Linked DNA regions of Homo sapiens. The protein of the gene in region 2 interacts with the protein of the main gene of each other region in a pairwise test. Each region holds a gene or a part of one and is shown on either strand. Other genes may lie near its edges.

Region 1 (7,983 bases), about 11 Mb from region 2:
TGCCTCCCTTCCTTTCTTTACTCTGACTTCTTCCACCACCACCTCATGGTCCCTGCTTCCATTCCTCCCTTCCTTGCAAGCTTCCGGAATTCTTTGTACCCCGGGCAGCAATAGCCCTTTTGGAGCTCCCCGCAATTGGCAAGAGCAAGTCACTGTGTGAGCAAGTCTTGGGCTCTGTTATCTTCAGATGCTCAAGTCAGGAAATAGGGGGCTAGAGGTCATTGTGCTCATTTCCCCAGAGATTATCAATGCCACCCCCACCCCTTTTAGGAGATGGCATGTGCCATGATCGTAGCTCAGTGGGATCCTTAATGCCTAGTGATCTCGGCTTAACAGGACAAAGATTCCAAGCCCATGTCTGTTCTGGGAAGCAAAGCAGGATGTGTGGGCCTGGAGTGAAGTTTGTTCCATTTCTCGCCATAGGCCATGGTATGATTACAGCTGTGCCTAGTGCTGCCTAGTTTTACTTTCATGCCTGATTTGCAATGTGGCAGGGTCCTGAGATGAGAGCTCTGTGTGGGCCAGTAGAGTCAAGAGACTTTGTCCTGGTCACTTGGCTACTTGCAGGGGGTTCTGGAAAGTCAAGTTCTCTGAATCTCAGTTGCCTTTAATATAAAAGGAAAGCTATAGTTTCGGGTCGGATTGATTCACATGGTTTTGGTCGGGAGTGAATGAAATTAATGTAAATTAAAACACATTATGAGTAGCAAAGTGCTATGCAATCTAAAAATAATAACATTTTAATCACTCTTATCATCATATGTGCCAGGCACTGTTCTAAGCTGTCTACAAATAGTAACTCATTTAGTTGAATGCTCACAACCACCTTATGAGAGAGCTACTGTTAATATCACCACTTTACTGATGGGGAAACTGAGGCACAGAGAGGTTAAGTAACTTGTGGAAGGTCACACAACCAGCAAGTGGTACAATCAGGGTTTGAACCAGTCAATGAGGAGTCAGCATTTGTTATTGTTCCTATTCCTATAGCATAGCTGGGAAGGGAATGCAATGCTGGTTTGGAGAACACATCAAGCAGGCCTCCTGTCATCCACTGAGTGAGATGAGATGATGGCCATACATTGCGGCACAGCCAGCTATCCATGGTCTGCAGCAACAGATCAGTCTTGCAGGGACATGGATAGCTCCGCTAGTGAACATTCACATGTTCAACGAATAGCTAGAGTAAATAGTTGGATCTCATTTAGAGGCATGCTCTGGCATTCCTCTTTCACGTCATTTGCTTTCCAGGCCCACTCCAGGATGAGAGTACTGAGGTGCCATAAAAGACCAACAGGCAAGATGTTGGAGGGTTCAGGAGCTGCCAAGGTTGTGTTCATGCTGACCTGTTGGCATAGCGTACAGCAGTGCCAGCTGCTCTGCTAAACCGAGGAGCTGAGATGCTGTGTTGATTTCTACATGTTCCAGGCAAATACTTCCTGAGGATTGTCAGGATTTACATAATGGATTGGCCCTGGGACCACTGAGCCAGCATCTATCTTTGACAGGTGTACTGAGAGATGACCTTTAAACCTAGGGATGTTCTCCAGATGCAGTTCCAGCTGGGCCAGTAAGATCTGCATGTTTATGGTGCTGTTTTTTCTTTTCTTCCCAGGCAGCCGGGATTGCTTACCACCTGCAGCGTGCTTTCGGAGGCGGCGGCTGGCACGGAGGCCGGGCTACATGAGAAGCTCGACAGGGCCTGGGATCGGGTTCCTTTCCCCAGCAGTGGGCACACTGTTCCGGTTCCCAGGAGGGGTGTCTGGCGAGGAGTCCCACCACTCGGAGTCCAGGGCCAGACAGTGTGGCCTTGACTCGAGAGGCCTCTTGGTCCGGAGCCCTGTTTCCAAGAGTGCAGCAGCCCCTACTGTGACCTCTGTGAGAGGAACCTCGGCGCACTTTGGGATTCAGCTCAGAGGTGGCACCAGATTGCCTGACAGGCTTAGCTGGCCGTGTGGCCCTGGGAGTGCTGGGTGGCAGCAAGAGTTTGCAGCCATGGATAGTTCTGAGACCCTGGACGCCAGCTGGGAGGCAGCCTGCAGCGATGGAGCAAGGCGTGTCCGGGCAGCAGGCTCTCTGCCATCAGCAGAGTTGAGTAGCAACAGCTGCAGCCCTGGCTGTGGCCCTGAGGTCCCCCCAACCCCTCCTGGCTCTCACAGTGCCTTTACCTCAAGCTTTAGCTTTATTCGGCTCTCGCTTGGCTCTGCCGGGGAACGTGGAGAAGCAGAAGGCTGCCCACCATCCAGAGAGGCTGAGTCCCATTGCCAGAGCCCCCAGGAGATGGGAGCCAAAGCTGCCAGCTTGGACGGGCCTCACGAGGACCCGCGATGTCTCTCTCGGCCCTTCAGTCTCTTGGCTACACGGGTCTCTGCAGACTTGGCCCAGGCCGCAAGGAACAGCTCCAGGCCAGAGCGTGACATGCATTCTTTACCAGACATGGACCCTGGCTCCTCCAGTTCTCTGGATCCCTCACTGGCTGGCTGTGGTGGTGATGGGAGCAGCGGCTCAGGGGATGCCCACTCTTGGGACACCCTGCTCAGGAAATGGGAGCCAGTGCTGCGGGACTGCCTGCTGAGAAACCGGAGGCAGATGGAGGTCAGTGTCTCTTCCACCTCTGTGGCCCGAGATTGTCGTGAGCTCAGATTAGCACTGGGCAGACGGCAGGAAACGAGGGGTTCTGGGCTCAACTGACTTCCTCCTGGAAGCTGCAGCAGCTCCTTTTGGAGCCGGCTGCACAGGATGTTGCTGCACTTCTGTCTCTTTGAATTGGACACAGATCTACTCTCCTTTTTGTCTTCTCTGTCACTTAGGTGCTCAGATTTGCTCTCCATTGGGCCGCAGGCTCCTCTGCAGGCCCCGGCTTAGGTGAGACGTGGTTCATGCAGCCCAGCTCTGCTTTGAGACAGGAAACTGGGGGCAGGGGAGATTGAGCTGGGTGATGTTTGGAAGGACTTGAGAGATACAAAAATGGGGATGCCCTCTATCAGGGCGATCCTGCTCTTCATCCGCTTCACTCATTCCCTTCCATCCTGCTGCAGTGGCTGCTGCCTTCCACAGGGTCGGGAGACTTCGCTTCTGGTCATTGAACCTCTTTGGCTCTCAGTTTCCGTATTTAGAGATAACACCAACTCATAGGATTGTTCTAAGGCTCAAATGAGAATGTAGCTGCTTTGGAAATAAGTACAAACTGGAGACATCTAAGGCCCAGCCTTATGATGATGCTGTCCATCCAGTTATCTGAGAGGTGGGTATAGCCGGAAGTAGGTAGGGTTCCTCTACCCACAAAAGTTCCCAGAGAAGCCCAGGTAGAGATGCTCTGTGGCTCATCTGTTGCCAGACTGTATTTTAATCCTGGTGTGTGTGTGCATATGTGTTTGTGTGTGTATGTGTGTGCATGTAGGTGTGCCTGTGTGTGCGTGTGTGTGTGTGCATGTTTGTGCTGTGTGTTCATGTGTGTGTGTGCATGCATGTGCGAGTGTATTTGTGTGTGTGCACTCATGTGTTTCTGCGTGTGGTGTGTGGATATGTTCATGTGGGTAGGGAAGTGGAGCACCCACTCATCAGGCATTTGGGAGGAGTAATCTGCAGAAGTTCATGCTCATTCCCCGAAAGAGCATCTCCCATCTGTTCTTTATCTATAGTCTGATGTTTCTAGCCCTGTCCCTGTTTGCCCTGTTTCAGCCCTCAGGGACCTCAGCCCAGCCCTCTGATTTATTATGCAGAGAGGGAGTGAGGTCAGAGCACAGATGCAGGCTTGTATTCTGGGTGATGTGTGGAGTCTTCCAGTTAGTCATTGCCTAAACCAGTGCCCCTTGTCTTTCCCCGAAACCCGTTCTGAAGGGCCTCCAATATTGGTTGATTTGAATGCATAGAATCTATCCAGTTTCTTAGGCCAGAAACCACAACCATCTTCCACACCTCCCTCTCCCTTGTTCCACATCTGGCTGGCCTCCAAGCCCTCTCAGTCCTACTGCTAATCTGTCTCTCATCACCATGGCCGCTGCCCTGGCTCAGATCCTTGTTATCTTTCACCTGGGTTTTGCAAGAGGGTCTACCTTCCTGCGGTGTTTCTCTTCTCCAGTTAATTAAACTAAATGTGATCATATGTGCAAAGTGCTTCAGACAGGGCCTGGCATCTAGCAAGTACCCAGAAATTAACCATTGTCATCATTAGAGAAATAGCTCCAATTTAGAGAGTTTGAGTCAAAAGCAAATGAAGCTCTCCCTTCTGTCCATAGCTCAAATTAAATTCCTATCTTATCTCAAATGGTAGAATCTGGACACACTTTTTCTTTAGTGTAAGTATTGTTGTCTATGGCAGTCCCACAGCTGGGCAGGGAAAAACATGACACTCTCTTCAATTACACTCATGTACTGCATAATGACATTTTGGCCAATGACGGATCACATATATGATGTGACAGTGGTCCTGTGAGATTATCGTACTGTGTTTTTGTTGTACCCTTTCTATGTTCAGATATGTTTAGATACAACAATACCTTACCATTGTGTGACACTTGTCTGCAGTATTCAGTACAGTCACATGCTGCACAGGTTTGTAGCCAAGGAGCAATAGACTATTCCATCTAGCCTAGGTGTGTAATGGGCTACACCATCCAGATTTGTGTAAGCACACTCTACGATGTTCACACAATGATGAAGTCACCTAATAATGCATTTCTCAGAATGCATCCCTGTCATTAAGTAACGCTAGGCTGTACTTGAGTATCTGTTGTGTGACAGCGGAATTAACAGAGTAGTGGGAATGACAGAAATAACACAGTCCAGGGCATAGGACTTACAGGAAGGCAGAGTTTGCCTCAATAGGAGGAAGAACCTCTTGACAGTGGGAATTGTCTGTGATGAGGTGGGCTGGTCAGGGACTTGTTTTCCCATGGTGCTTACACAGAGGCCCCAGACTGCTCACTGGGGTTGCGGCTGAGGCCTTCGGGACAGGGCAGAAGGTCGGTGAAGGATCTCCAAAAAGATCCTTTGAAAGAGTAGGATTTCTAGTGTTTGGGGGCCTTATTGATATTATATTTTAATTCCTTAACCTCCTCTCGCTTCTACTTAAGTAAAAATGAGAATCTCAGGAATTTAAGTTTCAGCTTCTTCTAAAAGATGGTTGATCCTCAGTGTTTGTGGATTCTATATGTGTGAATTCGTCTACTTGCTAAAATTTGTTGTTAACTCCAAAATCAGTACTCACAGCACTTTTATGGTCATTTTTCATTTTTATTTTATTTTTTAAGAGACGGGGTCTCTGTCTTCCAGGCTGGGGTGCAGTGGTGTGATCATAACTCACTGCAACCTTGAACTCCTGGGCTCAAGCGATTCTCTTGCCTCAGCCTCCCTAGTGGCTGGGACTACAGGCGCATGCCACCATGCCTGGCTAATTTTTTTTTTTTTTTTTTTTTGGGTAGAGATGAGGGTCTTGCCACGTTGCCCAAACTGGTCTTGAACTCTTGGCCTCAAATGATCCTCCTGCCTCAGCCTCCAAGGTACTGGGATTACAGGCATGAGCCACCATGCCTGGTGGTAATTTTGAACCTGCACAGAGTGGCAAAATATTTGGGTCACCTGATGTACACGCTTTCTACTTAGGTCAAACAAGTTCAGACCAGATGACATTCTACCTTCTCTCTCATACTACAAACTAGTATCCTTTTTGTGGTCTATTTAATGCCATCTTTTTTTACATTTTTGTGCTCTTTATTGGTGAGTTAACCATTGCAAAAGCTCCCTAAGCATAGTGCTAATGTCATCTAGTGCTCCTAAGCATGAGAAGGCTGTGATGGGCCTGATGGAGAAGATACAGGTGCTCCAGAAACTTTATTCAGGCATGAGTTAGAGTGCTGTTGGCCAGAGTACAATGCTTATGGATCAATAATACATATTAAATAAGATGTTTTTAAACAGAAACACACATAGAACAAGGTCATGTGTTGACCGATGGAGGAAGGTGTTGTGACCAGGGGTTCACAGGAACCTACCCTGTATTTCTCTTAGGAGCAATGCTTCATTATTCCCTAATTCAGTATTCACAGAAACTTTATAGAACATAACTACAGTACTGTGAATAAGGAGAATCGACTGTGAATATTTTATGCTGTTTAGAAATCGCTGCTTAGCGAGATTTCCAGGGGTTGCATGGGACTGAGAAGATGGTAATAAAGGTAGTTGGTGACCAGGCATGCAGAGGAGGGGAAGTGGAGTGGGCCCTGCAAGGTAGGCTCCACCTAAGGCCATGGAAACTGGTGAAAAATGAAGGACTCTGCCTGTAGAGTATTATAGGACGTTCCACAGGCAGGGTTGTGGCACAGTGCAAGACATGGCCACTGGGGCTGTGCCTCCAGCAAAGACGGGTATTCAGACATATCTCAGGGCAGTCCATTCAGGGCCTTATAGAGATCACTGGACGAGGTGGGCATCGTGGGGTGGGCTTTGGCTGTAAATGAATTTTTTTCCTGACCTTGTTTCCTGCATTTCTTCAGCTTCTGTTCTAATAAATGTTTAATGATACCATCATTTGGGTGTGGCGATGGTAATGCTATAGCTTTATGTGGCCCTCAAACCATTCACACAGCCTTTCTTCTGTCCCTAATATATAGGACTAAGTTACTGGTAAACTTTGCAGTTGTAATATAGAACAATTCAAAGACAAAGGGGTTAATATGATTATTCATTCATTCTTTCATTCATTCAGAAAGCATTTATCAATGACAACGAGTACAATGCCTTATCCTAGGCTTTGGAGATTGTATTAGGACAGGCTAGTAACAGGCACTACGTTAGAGGCTCAACACAACAAAATTGTGTTTTTTGCGTATGCTTCATGTTCCACAGAGATTTTTGGGGGGCAAGAACCCAGCCTGCACCATCTGAACATATGATCCCCTTAGTCACAGACTTGAGGAAGAGAATGTTAGGGAGTCCTACAAGAGCGATCAAATGCTTCAGCGTAGAGGTAACCCCATCACTGCCACTCATACCCTGTTCAGCAGAACAAGGAGAGAGGCACTTGTACTCTTTCCATGTGCCCAAAGCAGTGGAAAATCAAGTCAGTGTAAGTACTAGCATCCTATACATGGATGCAAAATAGTTCTTGCCCCCCAGATGCTCAAGGTTGAATGATGTGCACAGATAAAACCAAACAAAGGAAAATGATGGCTATAACCTGGTGCAATAAGTACTCCATTCTTCCAGTGGGTCAGAAAAAAAAACCCAAAAAACAAAAAACAAAACAAACCTTGGCATCATCCTGGTGCATTTTCCTCAGACCCCACCTGTGATGTATTAGCAAATCCTGTTGGCTCTATATTTAACCAGCGGTCTTCTGAATATAACCGGAATCAGATCACATCTCACCATCTTCACCATTGCCACCATCCTCACTATCATCCAAGCTCCTGTCATCTCCTTCCTGAATGTTCCCATAGCCTCTTACCTGGCCTCCCTTCTTCTGCTCTTACTAACAGCAGCCAGAGTGAAACTGTTTAAAACATAAGTCAGATCATGTGCTCCTCTGCCCCAAACTCTCCAGTGGCGCCCCATGAACTTCAGAGTAAAATCAGAACTTTTAAATGGTCTTCATGTCTCTTCTTGACACAGTCCTCATTACCTGTGTGACCTCATTCTCTACAGTTTTCCCTTACATCAATCTGCCCCAGATCCAGTGGCATTCTTGCTCCCTCTTGCTTTTCATTTCACTTTCACTTCTTGCTTTCTTACCAGAAACACTTCTGCCTGAGCCTTTGTACTGGCTCTTCCCTCTGTGGGAATATTTTTCTCCCAGACAGCCTCGTGGTTCACTCCCTTACCACTTTTAAATCTTTGTGTAAATGTCACCATCTCAAGGAGATCAGATTTCAAATTGCAACCTCTACCCTCTACCAGCATCCCTGATCCCCATAACGTGGTTCTCCCTTTTCCTTTTTCATAGCATTAATCACTTGCTAAGGTGCCATAAAACTTACAGTTGAC
Region 2 (7,983 bases):
GAAAATCAGTATGATAGTAATTTTTATCTTGCCGTTAAAATTTTAGCCCTCCCCTGTCACACACAAAACAGCTTTTGAAATCTGAAGCGCGTAACTTCTAACATACAGTGAAGTGTATATGTAATTTTTGTACAGAAGGCACAACCATGATTTACAGTAATAGCTAACACTTCAGTAGGGTTTACTTTATCCAACATTCTTCTGAGTGCTTTGTATGCATTTATTTAATCATCACAGCAATACCTAAAGGTACAGTTACGGTGATTTTGTAGATAAAGAAACTGAGGCATACTGAAATTAATTTACTTGTCAAAGTCACCCAACTACAAATAATGGAGCTGGGATTTGAACTTAGATTGCCTGACTCCTGAGTCCACGCTCTTAACCATAAGAAGTTTTAATATTTCAGCCATCATTACTCTTGTAAACACAATCACTCTAAAAGGATATACTTCATAGGGTACAAAGATTTAAACAAATACTCCAAAATCAAATAGCCATAAAAATTGATCCCTCCTAGCTCAGCATAATAAAATAAATTTCAAATGTGAAGCATCCAGCAATACTTTCATCTATATGAATGTAACTGAATTCTCAGCTTGTGTACTCTTTCTGCTAGATGACCAAAAGCCGTCTCATGATCTTGGGGTTCTTTTTGAGTAATAATTCAGTGATTTATGTCTTGTGTCAAATTCCTTAAAGTGCCCTGTCAGATACAGCTGATTAGTAATAGCCTTAAGAGACTCTCACTTGCTTTCTTATGTTAGTATGAGGATATTACTGTTTCAGATTTATCATTTGCAGCTTTTTAAAATATAGGATGAGGAAAATAGTTTACTGTCTTGTAATAATTTATGAAGCCAGCAGAAATTGTAGAATCAGATTTGAAATGTATATCAAGTGTTCTTTAATGTGGTCATTTTGAAATTAAGGTATTTTTAAAAACTTAAACTTTTTTTTTAAGTTTCAAATTGTGGAATATACGTGATTAGTTTAATAATTTATCCTGTAGCATACTCTTAGTGAAAGCAAAAAGTGATTTGCTTCTTCGTTATTAATTTTTAGAGTTGCATTCCAGAAAGGATAATAGAGTGTTTGCTACCTAGTAATTTTTAACGTTCCTCTCTGTGGGTTCATATATATCCAGAAACTCCCGAAGACTTGCCATATAGCTTAAAAAGCCCTGGTTTAAGCAAATACTTACTTTAGAGCAATTTCGTTCTCCAGAAATTGTGTGACTATTTTTAATCGTATTAAGACGTAAAGTTTGTCCTCAATTTATTTACAGCTATGCTTTTCTACCTCCTAACTTGGTCTCAACAATTAATTTAGGTTATAATTAAAGGCCTTTAACTGTTGCACACATTTTGAAATGGCATGTGCAACTGGGAATCATAGATTTTTGGCTCTCTCATGTTGATTTTTAATCCAGCGAAACTAAATTTGGAAATTTTCAAGTCGTAGCTCCTTTTAAGCAAAAGGAGCTTCCCAGTCTTCTTAATTTGACATGCTTGAACAGACTAGGTTAGATGGATGTCTTAAGCAGAATGAGCTGTTATAATTATAGTCCTTGTCATCTCAAATAAGTTTAATATTTCATTGAATTTAGTACAGAAGAATGAAAAGAACATTTATTCTGGATGAAGTATAAGTATCCCTTATAACATATTGTGTTAAGGTAACACAGTCATAAAATACCTTAAGAACATAAGCAGATTATCACCAATTGCTTTTCTGATTGAGATATATGGAATTAATTATGGCATAATCAATCATTAAATAATTTTTTAAAATCTAGTAATTGAGATTAATAATATAATATTAGTCTAAACAAGTATTTACTCTATTATTTAGTTTCATTTGGTATAACAAAATGAGTTTTGAAGATAGATGAATGTTAAATTTCTAAATTCCAGAATATGTTCTGTTAGTGTTCTGAGGGAGGAAAGGTGTTTTATTTTTCTGTGTTGATTAGAAGACCCCTTATAGTTTTCTATTAGGTACTTCTCAAGTGTAGTTGGACCACACTTCATCTGTTTTTATCATCTTTAGGGAAATGAATCCTTCCACATAATGAATTTTCCAGATGATTGAACTTTACTTTTACAGTTGATAGTTTTTTTGAAGTTTAACCATTTCCTAAGTTTCTATTAAATTAATTACCCATATTACCACCTTCTTAAGCAGAGAAGTTTCAGTATAATTTAAAACTTTTTCTTATGACTCAAAATCATCAATCATCAATATCAGTATTACTATTATATATATCAATAGCAATAGCAATATTGATATAATCAATAATCAAATATATTAGTAATATAATAATACTGATACTGCCTTACAGTAATGTCCTCAGGAGACTGTAGTATATAAGACTGTTTGCCCTATATACTGAATGGTACTGGACTATCATGTTTTTGGGGCCATTTGTCTGCTCTTGTTTTTCATCTTGTCTCTACCACTTGGTGCAATTTGTCTGTCCTTAATCCTCACTTTTGTACCCTGCCCAAGGTTTGCTACATGTGATCTGAGTAAATAGTAAAAACCTCTCGGTGAAGATCTTAACTGTTAGTAATGTTTATGAATATTCAAGGATAGGCATTGTCATATCTGTCTTGGGTTTTTTAGAGTTGGGTTTTGGTATTAGCTTTTTGTCTTCCTGATTCTCAGCTGTTTTTGAAGGTGGAGGGAGAAGCATTTATTTGTGTACCTGCTTTGTTCTGGGTAACTTACATGATCTCACTTAATACTCATCTCACTAAATCTTCACAACAATCTTATGGGAAGATACTGTTTTCTCACTTTATGATGAGGAAAATGAGGACTACAGACTGATTAGGGATAAGATTTATCTGATTTCAGATCTTGTCTGGGCTTTGCATGAAACCAGGCTGCCTGGTTATGATCATCAGATCATAGTCTGCTGCCTTTCCACTCTATTGTGCTACTTGACCTGGTTAGGTACTTGATTTCTAGATGAATTAGTTATTAACTTGTATAAGTCTCAAGTTTCTAGCTTTGAGTGAATGCGAGTTTGAAGTAGTACTAACATGGGAATGGTGACCTTCAAAACAGGTGACCTTGATAAGTGCTATATCCCTGGCCAGCTTTTTTGTGTTGCTTCATAGCTGAGCCACATCAGTTTTATTTAGCTCTCTGTATAGTGGATCAGTTTTATTTGGCTCTCTGTGTAGTGGTATTAGAAACTACCATCTTGACGTTGTTCTGTCACCTGAAGGATGAGCAAAGCAAAAACAAACTATATGTATATATCTATATGGGGGGAGGGAGAGAGGACAGGTTTATGAACCAGTTGTACTGTATGGACTTGATCAAGTACAGTACATTGTGCATAGTAAAAAAAAATCAATGTCTGAAAAAATAGAAAAATAACATTAATGAACTATTAATATATGAGAAGCAGTTAATACATTTTATTCTAATGGAAATTTTAACTAACATGACTTCAGAGTAAACACTCACAAGTCCAGCTGAACATTTTATTTTTAAGAAAAAGACAAATTAACTCTTTAATCAAACATTTTTTTAAACTTAGGTCATGTCATATAAATGTATGATTATTTCTCTGATAATGTAGAGTTTTTCCAATACTTTTCTTTCATGTTCAGTGATAGGAAAGCTGAGTAGATTTTAAAAGGGATAATTTTTCACAGTGAAAATTACAATATATTCTTTCATATTATATGTTCTCTTTGCCTTGTGTTTAGATTTTTTTGACAATTTATTATTATTATATTTATTGTGGAAATGGAGCTTGTTGTCTTCCGTGCCCTATCCCACACATTTGATTATGAAAGAGAGATGTTACTATATCATTCTTCTGTAACCTAAAAGCAGTCAGGTTTTATATTATTTCATATTCAGACTGCTGTCAAGAAACCAATTATAGTACCTGACAGATCCCACTAAAATTTAATTTTTGAAAAGATGTTTCAAAAGACCAAACGCTTCACTTAATTAGAAAATGTTTGGAAACAACCTAGTCTCCCTGTATTGCCTTGTTTTCCTAATAAATTGTCTGTAAGTGATTTTTCTATTAATCTGTTTAAAAGCAGAATTTATTTTTGAGCTTTAGGGAAATATGTCTCATTTCAACTTGCTCTTCATTTTGATAATGGACATGCTTTGCTTCTTCAACAACAGGACAATAGCATCTTTAATTTTTTTATTTTGCATTTGCGTACCGAAAACGTTTTAGTTGTCATTTTTATTTATGTATTTTATTCATAAATGCATCTGTTTCTATACTTTTGTATTAGATTCTGAGGCAACAGAAGAATAGTGATAGTGTTCCAGAGTTGCTTGCTCCTTCTGCCAACTCATGTTAATCTGAGGTTTACAATTCAGCTTTCCTCCAAGGAATTTTGACACTTTTGCATATTCTGCTGTATGGAAATGTAAACTTCCAGAGTTATTGTCTGGAAACTGAATTTCCTATTTTAACCTTATTTCGTTCACACTGCTGCTTGGATTGCAAACCACATGTTTTAGTCTTTATAAAATGTTTGTATCTTCTTGCAAGGATCGCACTTCAGCAATATCTTTGTCATTCTGAAAGTAATGTTTCCGAATGTAATGGTGAAGAATGGTAAGTGGAATCATTACTTCCAGAAGATCACTTACATATTTACTTCATGTTTGTATTCTCATTTGAGCACCTATTCTCCTTTGGAGCACTACATGTGTTCATATATATTTCAGATATCTCATCTTGGCGACTTGAGAAGGGAGTTCATGGTTTTTCTGTCACTTTTTATATATACATTGAACATGCATCTCCATCTACATTTTATTTTAATTCTTTTGGACCTTGATGAATTCTAGATCCAGGTTGGAAAAAATATGGACCTAGCCATGCAAGATCCATTTCTTAACTGCTTTGCTCTCATTTGCCATTGCTGCTGCTTATCTTCCATCCCCTATTGGTAATCAAATCGCATGTTTATAATCAAGATTCTTTCTTCTCTGTGACATTTGTTCTGTGATATAAATGCCATTGGTTTTCATCCAGACTGTGATCTGCCTTCTGGTTCTCACGGAGTAGTACACATGGCCATTACCAGACTCCCTCAAGTGCCAGAAGCAATCAAATATTTTGAATTTTCTCTTATTTTTCTCATTAGGGTGCGGCATAGATGCCAAGCAAGTTGAGGAACAATCTGCAGCTGCAAATGAAGAAGTACTTTTTCCTTTCTGTAGGGAACCAAGTTATTTTGAAATCCCTACAAAAGAATTCCAGCAACCATCACAAATAACAGAAAGCACTATTCATGAAATCCCAACAAAAGACACGCCAAGTTCCCATATAACAGGTGCAGGGCATGCTTCATTTACCATTGAATTTGATGACAGTACCCCAGGGAAGGTAACTATTAGAGACCATGTGACAAAGTTTACTTCTGATCAGCGCCACAAGTCCAAGAAGTCTTCTCCTGGAACTCAAGACTTGCTGGGGATTCAAACAGGAATGATGGCACCCGAAAACAAAGTTGCTGACTGGCTAGCACAAAACAACCCTCCTCAAATGCTATGGGAAAGAACAGAAGAGGATTCTAAAAGCATTAAAAGTGATGTTCCAGTGTACTTGAAAAGGTTGAAAGGTAAAGTGATTTGATCATTCAGAACTTCCTACTTTACGATAAAGAAAATCTGGTCTTCATTTACTAGACTACTAGTAGATACTTACATGGTAGAAAACATTCTGCTTTTTTCAAAGGTTATATTTAGTCTTAAAACTAAACAGGAAGCTACACTGCCCATGTCCAATTTCCTCATTCAAAATAGTCTTCCTTCATTTTCTTGACAAAACCAGATTGGTTTTATGAGCTTATATTTATGCTATAAAACATGTTTCTTTTTCTTCTAGAAATATAAGATTTATTAAGTTTACCAGTAGAGTTCCCTAGAAGATGAGTTCCATCATTTTCTTGATTTAAGGAAAAGATATATTCAATTCTGTTCTCTATTGAGATCAATATCTAGATTCTGAAAGAAATTTTAAGTCATTTGGTCTGAGCCAAAAGTTCTACTTTGGTAATGCAGTCACATCATTGATGGAGCGCTTCAAAGTATTCTCAGTGGTTACTCATAAAACAAAGATTTTTGGTTTAGAAATATTTGGTAGGATCTATTAATCCAGTTTTAAAATTTTTTTTAATATTAGGACTTCATGAAAATTAGAGTTGAATGTTCATTTTTGAAATAGTTATATATACTTTATTTGTGTAGAACTTAGCCAAAATTAGTACAATTTGTATGTTTGTACACTGATGTATCAGCTGATCAGTTTTTTCTCATTGGTTTTGCCAATTAAATTTATTTTAGAATTGAGTATAGATTTATGTTACCCTATCTTTTATTTAATAAGCTATCTATAAGGAAAACGATTTTGAACAAATTGTGATTACACGTTTAGCTGACCATTCTGTTACTATATTAGGAGTTTTTGTACTCCTAACACTTCATCTAGTACTTGAGCATGTGATAGGTACTAATTTGAAAACAATGGGCGATTTCTCTGTCAATGACAAGACTGTCCCTGATTTAATCTGTACCTTATGTCCTGGCATTCTGATCAAGTAATGAAGAAATAGTATTTGTATACTTATTTCTGATTTGCTTCTAAGACATTTCCGGACAGTGAGATGATGTGATTACCTAATTATTTGTTGGAGCCTATCACAATATTTAATTATAGTTATCAGCAGTTACCTGGCATATGTATTTTTGAGACATGATTGTGACATTTTACTTCTAGACAATACGTAATTGAGACATTTTGTTTCTGTAGGTTAACACTCACAAACACATAGGCTGTTTATATGAATTGGATAAATAATATTGATCTCCTAGTACAGTATAAGAGGTAGCTGAACCTTGAGAATTTAGAAATAACTTAGACTTTTTAAAACCACTCTTAATAAACAAAAACTGAGGTAAAATATCCTTTTAAAAGGTAATCATTTTAAAAATACCTTTATTAAACCCATTTATAACTTAGTCATTATAACTATTTTCTATATTGACTATTATTATTACTACTATTTTTTTTTTTTTTTTTTGGAGACAGAGTCTCGCTTTGTCACTCAGGCTGGAGTGCAGTGGCGCGATCTCGGCTCACTGCAAGCTCCGCCTCCTGGGTTCACGCGATTCTCCTGCCTCAGCCTCCCGAGTAGCTGGAACTACAGGCGCCCACCACCACACCCGGCTAATTTTTTTTATTTTTAGTAGAGACGGGGTTTCACCGTGTTAGCCAGGATGGTCTTGATCTCCTGACCTCGTGATCCACCCACCTTAGCCTCCCAAAGTGCTGGGGTTACAGGCGTGAGCCACCGCGCCTGGCCTGTATCGACTATTATTTTTAAGCCATTATTTTAAAACGTTCTGTCCTCACAAGCCCATTTGTGGGCCTAATTCCAAATAGAGGGATTAATGTCCACATGTATACTATATCTGTATTTTAATGATTAGATCTTTTAAGCCCTTACTAGAAATTATGTAATCATATTACTGTTGTCCTTCAAAGTTGATTTATAGGTAGACATACATTCCAGTATGGTGCCAGTGTGAGAACTCTTCTTTTGGATTTGCCTTCAGACCATTTTACAAGCCATTGAAGATAATGTTTTTGTGAATATAACTCATTTTTTGATCCAAGATAGACTCATTTTACTTTTCTGGACATGTGTATAAATGACATGTGACTTTCTCCAAAAGTCAGAGCTTCCATCATTAGATAACAATTTTCCATGATTTAGGATATAAAAAGTATATAGCCAGACTCTAAATAAATGTAATTATAGCAAATAATAAAAATTTTACAAAAATTAGGTTTTCAGCAACTGTTTAGATCAAAGAATTGAAAGTAGGCAAAACAAAACTAAAACAAAAAACTTTGCTCCTACAAGAGTAAAATGCAGGTGCTTTGCGACAGTTTGGAAAATAAAGCCCATACACTTTAAC
Region 3 (8,457 bases), on a different chromosome or scaffold from region 2:
TCCAACTGCAAAGTTTATTTTTGTTATAATAACCACTAGTGTTTTATCCAATATAGACGTTATGGAAGTGAGAGGAAGCAAACAAGCTTCTTTAAAGTGAAAAAGGGAAAGCTTGAGGGGCATTCTCCCAGACATCAATTTCTATTGTGAAACACTACTGTCCAATGCAAATGATCCTTCTGTTCTTTCGAAGTTCTCTACTAATCTCCTGCCTTCCACCAACTCCATCATGCATCTGAGGCACATAAAAAGATACATGACCATAGGTTAGGATAATAACACACTGTGATGACTTCCCTAATTTCTTATAGGCAAACCGCTTTTGAAATGTGGCTTTAGGTTAGTAGCACTTATGTAAGAACACAAAGCTCTTGTATGTCTGGGAACTTCTGGTATAGGCTGAAGGTGAAGGCTGAAAAGAACGAAAATTGCTTCAAGTTCAATAAATTTAAATAAAATATGCTCCGTAGAAATTAAAATGTATAAATCAAATATCATATACTTTTTCTGATACGATTTCAAAGTTAACACCTATACTCATACTTATGAGTGTAAAGAATTTACACATTTTATTGCACCCTAATTTTTTAAAAAATAAATTTCATTGTGCAACTGAGGTTTACAACATGATGCTATGGAATATAGACAGCAAAATGGTGAAGCAGATTAATATAGCTATCATTTCACATACTTTAACAAGAGCTGCTAAAATCCACTTATTTAACAAAAATCTCTAATACAATTTTACTAACATTGGTCCCCCTGTATCTCTAAACTTGTTCATCCTACATATCTGCTATTTTGTATCCTTGACCTATATCTCCCCATTTCCTCTCCTTCCCCACCACCAGTAGTAACCACTGTTTCGTTCTGTGTATTTTAGCTCCTTAAAAAAATATTCTACATATGAGTGAGATTATGCAATATTTTCCTTGGTGTCTGGCTTATCTCATTTAACATAACGTCCTTCAGGTCCATCTATGTTGTGGTAAACAGTAGGATCTCCTTTTTTAAGGCTGAATAATGTTCCATTGTACATTGTCTATACACACACATAAACGTATACACACACACATAATTTCTTTAGCCATTCCTCACCCATCGATGGACATTTAGGTTGCTTCCCTATCTTGGCTACTGTGAATAATGCTGCAATGAACGCGAGAGTGCAGATATCTTCACAAGGTGGTGATTTCCTCTCCCTTGGGTGTATACCAGGGACAGGTGTTGCTGTGCACCCAGAATCTTCAAAATAATATGTAAATCCTACTTTTGCTGGTATACTGTGAACTCGTATTTACCTAAAAAAATGACATTAACAGCACTCTTTCAAGAAAGTAATCTGAAGAGAAAATATAAAAGAAACCTCAACCCAAGTAAAGAAGGTATCTCTTTCCCATTAGTGTTATTGGTAATTTCTAAAGCTCTAAGCGGTATAATTTATCTTTTCATATACAGGATAACGATGGTTTCAGTTGTTACCACAAATTACTTCAAATATAACGGAGGAAAAAATCATTAGCTATATAGGGTCTTCCAATATATCATACACACAACATGAAAATCAATCTAGCTTCACGTAACTTGGTCAAACCTGGCAGAATCCAAGGGGCACGTGGACGTGACAGCCAAGTTACTACTGACTAGGCTAGGCTAAAGGTTAATAAATAAGGCACTCATAAAAGGAATCGAGGCCAGGCGCGATGGCTCACGCCTGTAATCCCAGCACATTGGGAGGCCGAGGCAGGTGGATCACTTGAGGTCAGGAGTTCGAGACCAGCCTTGTCAACATGGTGAAACCCCGTCTCTACTAAAAATACAAAAAATTAGCTGGGTGTGGTGACAACGCCTGTAATCCCAGCTACTCAGGAGGCTGAGGCACAAGAATAGCTTCAACACGGGAGGCGGAGGTTGCAGTGGGCCGAGATCGCACCACTGCACTCCAGCCTGGGTGAAAATCCGTCTCAAAAAAAAAAAAAAAGGAATCGGTATGAGAGATGGAGTCAGGAACACTGCTCAACTCGAGATTATCACACATCTCTCGTTCTTTCAATATTGGTACCGAAAGAAAATAATTTTACTTATCTCCCTCCGTGCATTTATTCCTTTACAATATGAATTATTTCCAGTCTGGCTGGCGTATCTCACTCCACACCCCAAGCTAGTGTCATAAACCATTTTCCCCAAGAGAAACCTAGAGAAAGATACATAAGCCTAAGGCTCTTAAAAAAAAAAATGAAGCATGTGTCTTCACCTCGCCTTACACTTTTCTCAGTTACCTCTCCCGAGGGTGTGAAAATATCAACATCCGGTCGCCCACCCCCACTCTCTCAGCAGTGCCTCGCATTGACTCTGCCCATCCCCTATCATTCCCTTTACAGTCTCATCACCTTGGAGAAGCCCATCGAATATTTCTTCCCATTGCTCCCCCACCCTTATTCATGGCTCAGCGCGATATTCTCCACATTTTTCTCCCAAGAAGTGGCAAAAAAGAAAGCAGCATGGTCGACGACGAAACCGGGGAGGCCTGACAACCAGACGGCAGTTTAAGGCGACGGAACTGGCTCTTTCCCCCCATCTCGGCCTCCGACCAGCAGTCGGTTCTCTAAATGTGAAATCGCTGGTCTTCCCGCTCCCCCACCCCCATCCCCATCCCCGTCAGAGGCCAAGCCGGTAAAATGCAAAGACCAAGGGGAAGCGCGAGGCAGGGTCATCCCTAACGAAGCCCGCTCCCTCCCGGGCTGGTGTCCCCGGGGGGGGGCTGGAGATTGCGGGAGGAGGAGCGAGCGGCCCTCGCCCAGAGACCCCCGGAGACGCGACCCTCGACACCCGGGCCCTTTCCCCACCCGGCTTCCCTCCCCCGCGGCCCGATCCGGAGAACTGCAGCAGCGCCCGGGCGGACCCCAAGCCGGCCTCACTGGCACACACGCCACACACAAAAGCGCCGCGGCCGCCGCCTTCCCACCCCCACAGCCCGGCGAAGCAATCAATGAGGCGGCCGGCGCCCGCGTCCCCTCCGTGCACACCCGAACACGGGGCCGAGCGGGCCAGCGGGGCTGGCAGCGCGGCTCACCATCGCTGCGCTTGATCTCCACGTAAATCCCGATCTGGATCTTGCCGAAGTTGGCCGTTGCCATCACCTCATCTGGAGCAGCAGCAGCGGGCCGAGGGAGGGGGACCGGAGGGCGGAAAAGGCGGGGAGGGGGCGGGGTAGGTGTGGGAGGGGGAGCGGTTGCCCGCGGCCGCGCCGGCCCGGGCGACAGCGTGAACGCAAGCGGGGCCGCAAGGAGCAGCTGTGGGGAAGCAGGCGGAGGCCCCGGGCCTGCAGGCCGGCAGGAGGACGCGCACGCCGGGTAGTCGGGGTGAAGCTAGGGCCGGGGCCGTGAGACGGCGCGGGGTAGAGTGGGAGGGCCCGCACCGCCCGCCGGGGAGCCGACGCTGGGGAGGCGGGGCGCCGCGCGCCTGCGCAGAGCGCGCCTCCGGCGTCTCTTCTTCCTTTTCGGCTGGCCTCTCCCCGCTGCCTCCAGGCGGCCCCGCCCAGCTCTGCAGCGGGGTGGGCGGCGGCCGCGGCTTACCCAGCCGCTGGAGCGTTGAGCGCTCGGCCCGGCCCACAGCTAGCCGGCGTCGCGTTTGATTTCAGCGCGCGGCCTAGAAGACGCGGGAAGCGTCGCGCCGAGCTTTCTTGCCCTCTCGCTTCCGGGAATTGGCGCTGTTGCCGGAATGGGTTAAAGGCCACGTGGTTTCAGGGGCTTTCTAGCGGGCTGAGGGATGTGAATTCAAGGGCCCTCCGTTGACAGTACGGGATCCGGGTTTTCATCGGAAGGTGGCACCCCCTATTTCCACTTACAGGTAGCTGACCCAAGCAGCCCTCCCAAGCACACTTGGTGTAGGTTTCCCATCCAGTTACGCTGGAAGGGAAGAAACACCCTTGAGGTGTCACCTACCCTAAATCGAAATGAAGATCCACCCCTTTACAGTCTTGCCTTATAGTTTATCACACTCAGAAAGAAGCTCTGTGGTGGGGCGTCCTTAACTGTTCAGGTTATGAGGCATCCGATGCTGGTGCCCTGTTTCTGCTGAGGGTTCAAGACTTACTTGCCTTGGCCTGTAAAGCCAACAACTGTGACTCAAGGGAAGAAGGCAGACACATAAGGTTGACTAGGGAATGTGTCTTTTTGCAATAATTTAATTAGTCTGACCACATCAGCAATGTGGAAAGCAAGACTCTCCATCCTGGCAGAGCAGGAAGGCCACGTGTACCGGGGCCCTGGAAACTGTATTTATAGCACCGTGTGAAAACCTCCAAACGTCTAACTCCTGCTTGTAGTACTGGCAATTGATAGGTTGGAAACAACACTTTTCATGGCCTACTTTCCCTAGTCATTGTTTTTTGTTGTTGTTGTTTTGTTTTGTTTGTTTTTGAGGGGGAGTCTTGCTCTGTCGCTCAGGCTGGAGTGCAGTGGCGCGATCTCCGCTCACTGCAATCTCTGCCTCCTGTGTTCAAGCGATTCTCACGCCTCAGCCTTCCGAGTAGGTGGGATTACAGGCCCGCGCCACCACGCCTGGCTAATTTTTGTATTTTTAGTAGAGACGGGGTTTCACCATGTTGGCCAGGCTGGTCTCAAACTCCTGACCTCAGGTAATCCACCCGCCTCCACCACCCAGAGTGCTGAGATTACAGGCATGAGCCACTGCGCCCGGCCTTCCCTAGTCATTGATAATCTCCCTGTAACAATAACTACAAATATACAATTTAAAATTTTAAAATTGGAAACTGGATATATACATCAATGCTTATGTGGATATATGTGTGCCTAGAGTTTTCTATCTAATGTAAGTAATCATGTAGGTCCTTAAAAAACTGTTAAAAGACTGGCTTCATCTGTAGCTTGAACATATTGAAGGTATACCTGTCAAAAGAACAATTCTATTGAATCCATTCTAAAGTGCATATAATTTCTATGGAAAAAAAACCACACTGGATAGACAATGTGGAAAATAACTTCTTTTACATTCCAGAAATGACACACTTGAGTACCCCGGTTTCAAGTGAAATTTGACCAAATCAGGGTTTAGTTTTTATTTTTTCTATAATTTTGGGAGTTTTATCTGAACTCTTCAAGCTCCTGTCTAGAATTCATTTTCTGATGTCTCTGCAACTGAGGTATAAAACATCTATTTATATTTTATTTATACTTTATAAAGAATGCAAAGAAATCAAGCTATACAGCTCAAAGTTAACATTGTTTCATAAAATATTATTATTATTATTATTAGAGACGAAGTCTAACTCTGTCGTGCCTAGGCTAGAGTGCAGTGGCATGATCTCAGCTCACTGCCACCTCCACCTCCCAGGTTCAAGTTATTCTCCTGCCTCAGCCTCCCAAGTAGTTGGGACTACAGGCGTGTGCCACTACGCCCAGCTAATTTTTTGTATTTTTAAAATAGAGACGAGGTTTCACCGTGTTAGCCAGGATGGTCTCGATCTCCTGACCTCATGATCCTCCCGCCTCAGCCTCCCAAAGTGTTGAGATTACGTGAGCCAACACGTCCAGCCAATAAAATATTATTTTGTATCGTGGTTGCTGACACATACCTTACACTCTGTGGTTTATATGGTTAATCTTAACCTTTAATCCATATAAAAGGTATTTTTAAAATATGTACATTGTTTTGCTCCATAAAAATGTATGACATAACACTTAACAAACACAAAACCTTTCCTTTATAAGACATACCCAAAAGGCTTACTTTTTTTGGTACACATCAGCATATGTATTTACCAAGACTTTCATTATGGGCTTTGTATGCTAGTGGCTTCCTAAAGAGCAGCCATAAATACATGCAATGTGGCTATGTTTCCATCAACATCCTGGATCAAATATTCTAACTCTGGCTGAGACATTAACAAGATATATAATCCTAACTAGAACTACTACTAATAAGATCCTGAATTAGTAACTACTAATTAATCACTAAGATATATACCCTACTAAGAACTACTGTTTTTATTAGGATTATATAGTCTGCACTCAGACATTTGTTCAATGAGTTAACTTCTTAAACTGCTCAGTATCTCAGTTACCTCTTTGATCAACCTGGAATAATAACTTACATTCTCTCAATCACAGAAAGTTTTTGTGAGGACAAATGAAATAAAATGTGATAGTGCCTTGATATTTATAATTTTTTTTTTTTGAGATGAAATCTCACTCTGTCGCCCAGGCTGGAGTGCAATGGTGCAATCTCGGCTCACTGCAACCTCTGCCTCCCGGGTTCAAGCAATTCTCCTGCCTCAGCCTCCCGAGTAGCTGGGATTACAGGCACCTGCCACTACACCCGGCTAATTTCTGTATTTTTAGTAGAGATGGGGTTTCACCATGTTGGTCAGGCTGGTCTCAAACTTCCGACCCCAGATGATCCACCCGCCTCAGCCCCCCAGAGCACTGGGATTACAGGCGTGAGCCAACGCGCCTGGCCTGTAATTTGTTTTATAAAAGTAAACCATCCTATAAAATATAACCCAGGCCAGGTGCTGTGGCTCATGCCTGTAATCCCAGCATTTTGGGAGGCCTAGATAGGAAGATCCGTTGAGCTCAGGAGTTTCAAACCAGACATTTGTATTCACATTCAGCTAAGTGAAAATACCAGGTGAAAGGCTGCTGATCACTTAGATCATGCAAAAGAGATAATATCATTTTTTTCTTAATACCTATCGCTGGCTTCCCAGAATAAAATCTGAATTCTTTACAAAACTGTACGCGATCTAGCTCTGGCTTCCTCGGCAGCCTCGTCTGGTGCTGCTCTCCTCTCACTCTGCTCCATTTTCGCAGAACTCCTTTCTGTCCCTTAAATCAGTCAAGATCTCTGATCAGGATGGCTGCTCTTGCTCATCTTTTCATGTGACTGATTCATCTTCCAGGTCTCAGTCAAAAATCACTCCTGGAAAAAGCCTTTCCTTGTCCCTCACCTTACCCCCACTTTTCTCAATCTGTCTTTCCTCCCCAACTCTAAAGTAACCTCCTCAAGGGTAGAAATCTTGCCTAAAATTCTTCACTCTATCTTTGGCACATAGAAGGGTACCTGGAACACAGCTGCTCAGCAAATATTTGTTGAATGAATGAAGGAAAAGTTTAATAATTTGTTATATGTTGCCAAATTTATAGCCTTAGGTAGTCTTTTCTCTCTGTTTGTTTGTTTTTTTTCTTTTTTTGAGATGGAGCCTCACTGTCGCCCAGGCTGGAGTGCAGTGGCATGATCTCGGCTCACTGCAACCTCTGCCTTCTAGGTTTAAGCAATTCACAAGAATCGAGATTCTCACGCCTCAGCCATCTGAGTAGCTGGGATTGCAGGCATGTGCCACCACACCCAGCTAAGTTTTGTATTTTTAGTAGACGACGGGGTTTTACCATGTTGGCCAAGCTGGTCTTGAACTCCCGACCTCAAGTGATCCGCCCACCTCAGCCTCCCAAAGTTCTGGGATTAGAGGCATGAGCCACTGTGCCTGGCTCATCTTTTCTCTTTCTGAATAAGCTCAATTGGTAATAGATTTTCTCATTAATATGACCCAGACAATCAATATTTAATGTTTCAATCATTTGAACCTCAAAAATCTCTAGTAGATATAGATTAGTGTATATGTAATAAATGTTTATAAAAATTTTAGGCTGGCACGGTGGCTCATGCCTGTAATCCTAGTCCTTTGGAGGCTGAGGCGGGAGAGTTTTTTGAACCCAGGAGTTTGAGGCTGCAGTGAGCTGTGATCCCACCATTACACTACAGCCTGGGTGATAGAGTGAAACCCTGTCTCAAAAAATAAAAAATAAAATTTTAAAACAAAAAGTGTATAAAGTAAAATGAAAGGGAAAGCCCTCGTTGCCCTCCAAGTCCCATTTTCTGGAAGTGGCCACTGTTAAGTATCATATTAATCCAATAATTCTCAATCTTTATTGGGCATAAAAGTCATATGAGATGATTGTTATGCAGACTCTTGGGTCCTATCATCAGAGATTGTGATTCAGTAGATCTAGTTTGAAGTGTAGGAATATGCACTTTTTTAACATTCACTCCAGGTGATTTTCACTCCAGGTCAGGTGATAATTCTTTTTTAAAATATATTTTACAAAAAATTTTAAGCCTGGGCAACATAGTAAAAACCTTGTTCCTGCAAAAAAAAAAAAAATTAGCTGAGCGAGGTGGTGCGTGCCTCTAGTTCCAGCTGCTCTGGAGGCTGAGGCAGGAAGATGGCTCGAACCCAGGAATTCATGGCTACAGTCAGCTATGATTGCACCACTGCACTCCCGCCTGACAGAGCAAGACCCTATCTCTAAAAATAAAATAAAATAAAATGAAATAAATTTTATTATATATATGATTTTACCTGTGTGACTGATATTTTAAAGAAATCATGCTGTATATACTGTTCTGAAACTTTCTTTTTAAAAAAAGTATATATAT

What was found.
Region 1: the proteins of CEP170 (region 2) and DISC1 interact in binary tests that used the Homo sapiens proteins (3 or more experiments, as listed by UniProt).
Region 3: the proteins of CEP170 (region 2) and KIF2A interact in binary tests that used the Homo sapiens proteins (3 or more experiments, as listed by UniProt).

What each region holds. Positions count from the first base shown.
Region 1 is NC_000001.11:231,692,211-231,700,193, forward strand, and holds part of DISC1 (disrupted in schizophrenia 1 protein), read left to right. Parts: intron 1-1,615; coding exon 1,616-2,595; intron 2,596-7,983. UniProt on the Homo sapiens protein: Involved in the regulation of multiple aspects of embryonic and adult neurogenesis. Required for neural progenitor proliferation in the ventrical/subventrical zone during embryonic brain development and in the adult dentate gyrus of the hippocampus.
Region 2 is NC_000001.11:243,188,656-243,196,638, reverse strand, and holds part of CEP170 (centrosomal protein of 170 kDa), read left to right. Parts: intron 1-5,144; coding exon 5,145-5,621; intron 5,622-7,983.
Region 3 is NC_000005.10:62,301,153-62,309,609, reverse strand, and holds the start of KIF2A (kinesin-like protein KIF2A), read right to left. Parts: upstream 3,405-8,457; 5' UTR 3,138-3,404; coding exon 3,074-3,137; intron 1,302-3,073; exon of another isoform or gene 1,099-1,301; intron 1-1,098. UniProt on the Homo sapiens protein: Plus end-directed microtubule-dependent motor required for normal brain development. May regulate microtubule dynamics during axonal growth. Required for normal progression through mitosis. Required for normal congress of chromosomes at the metaphase plate.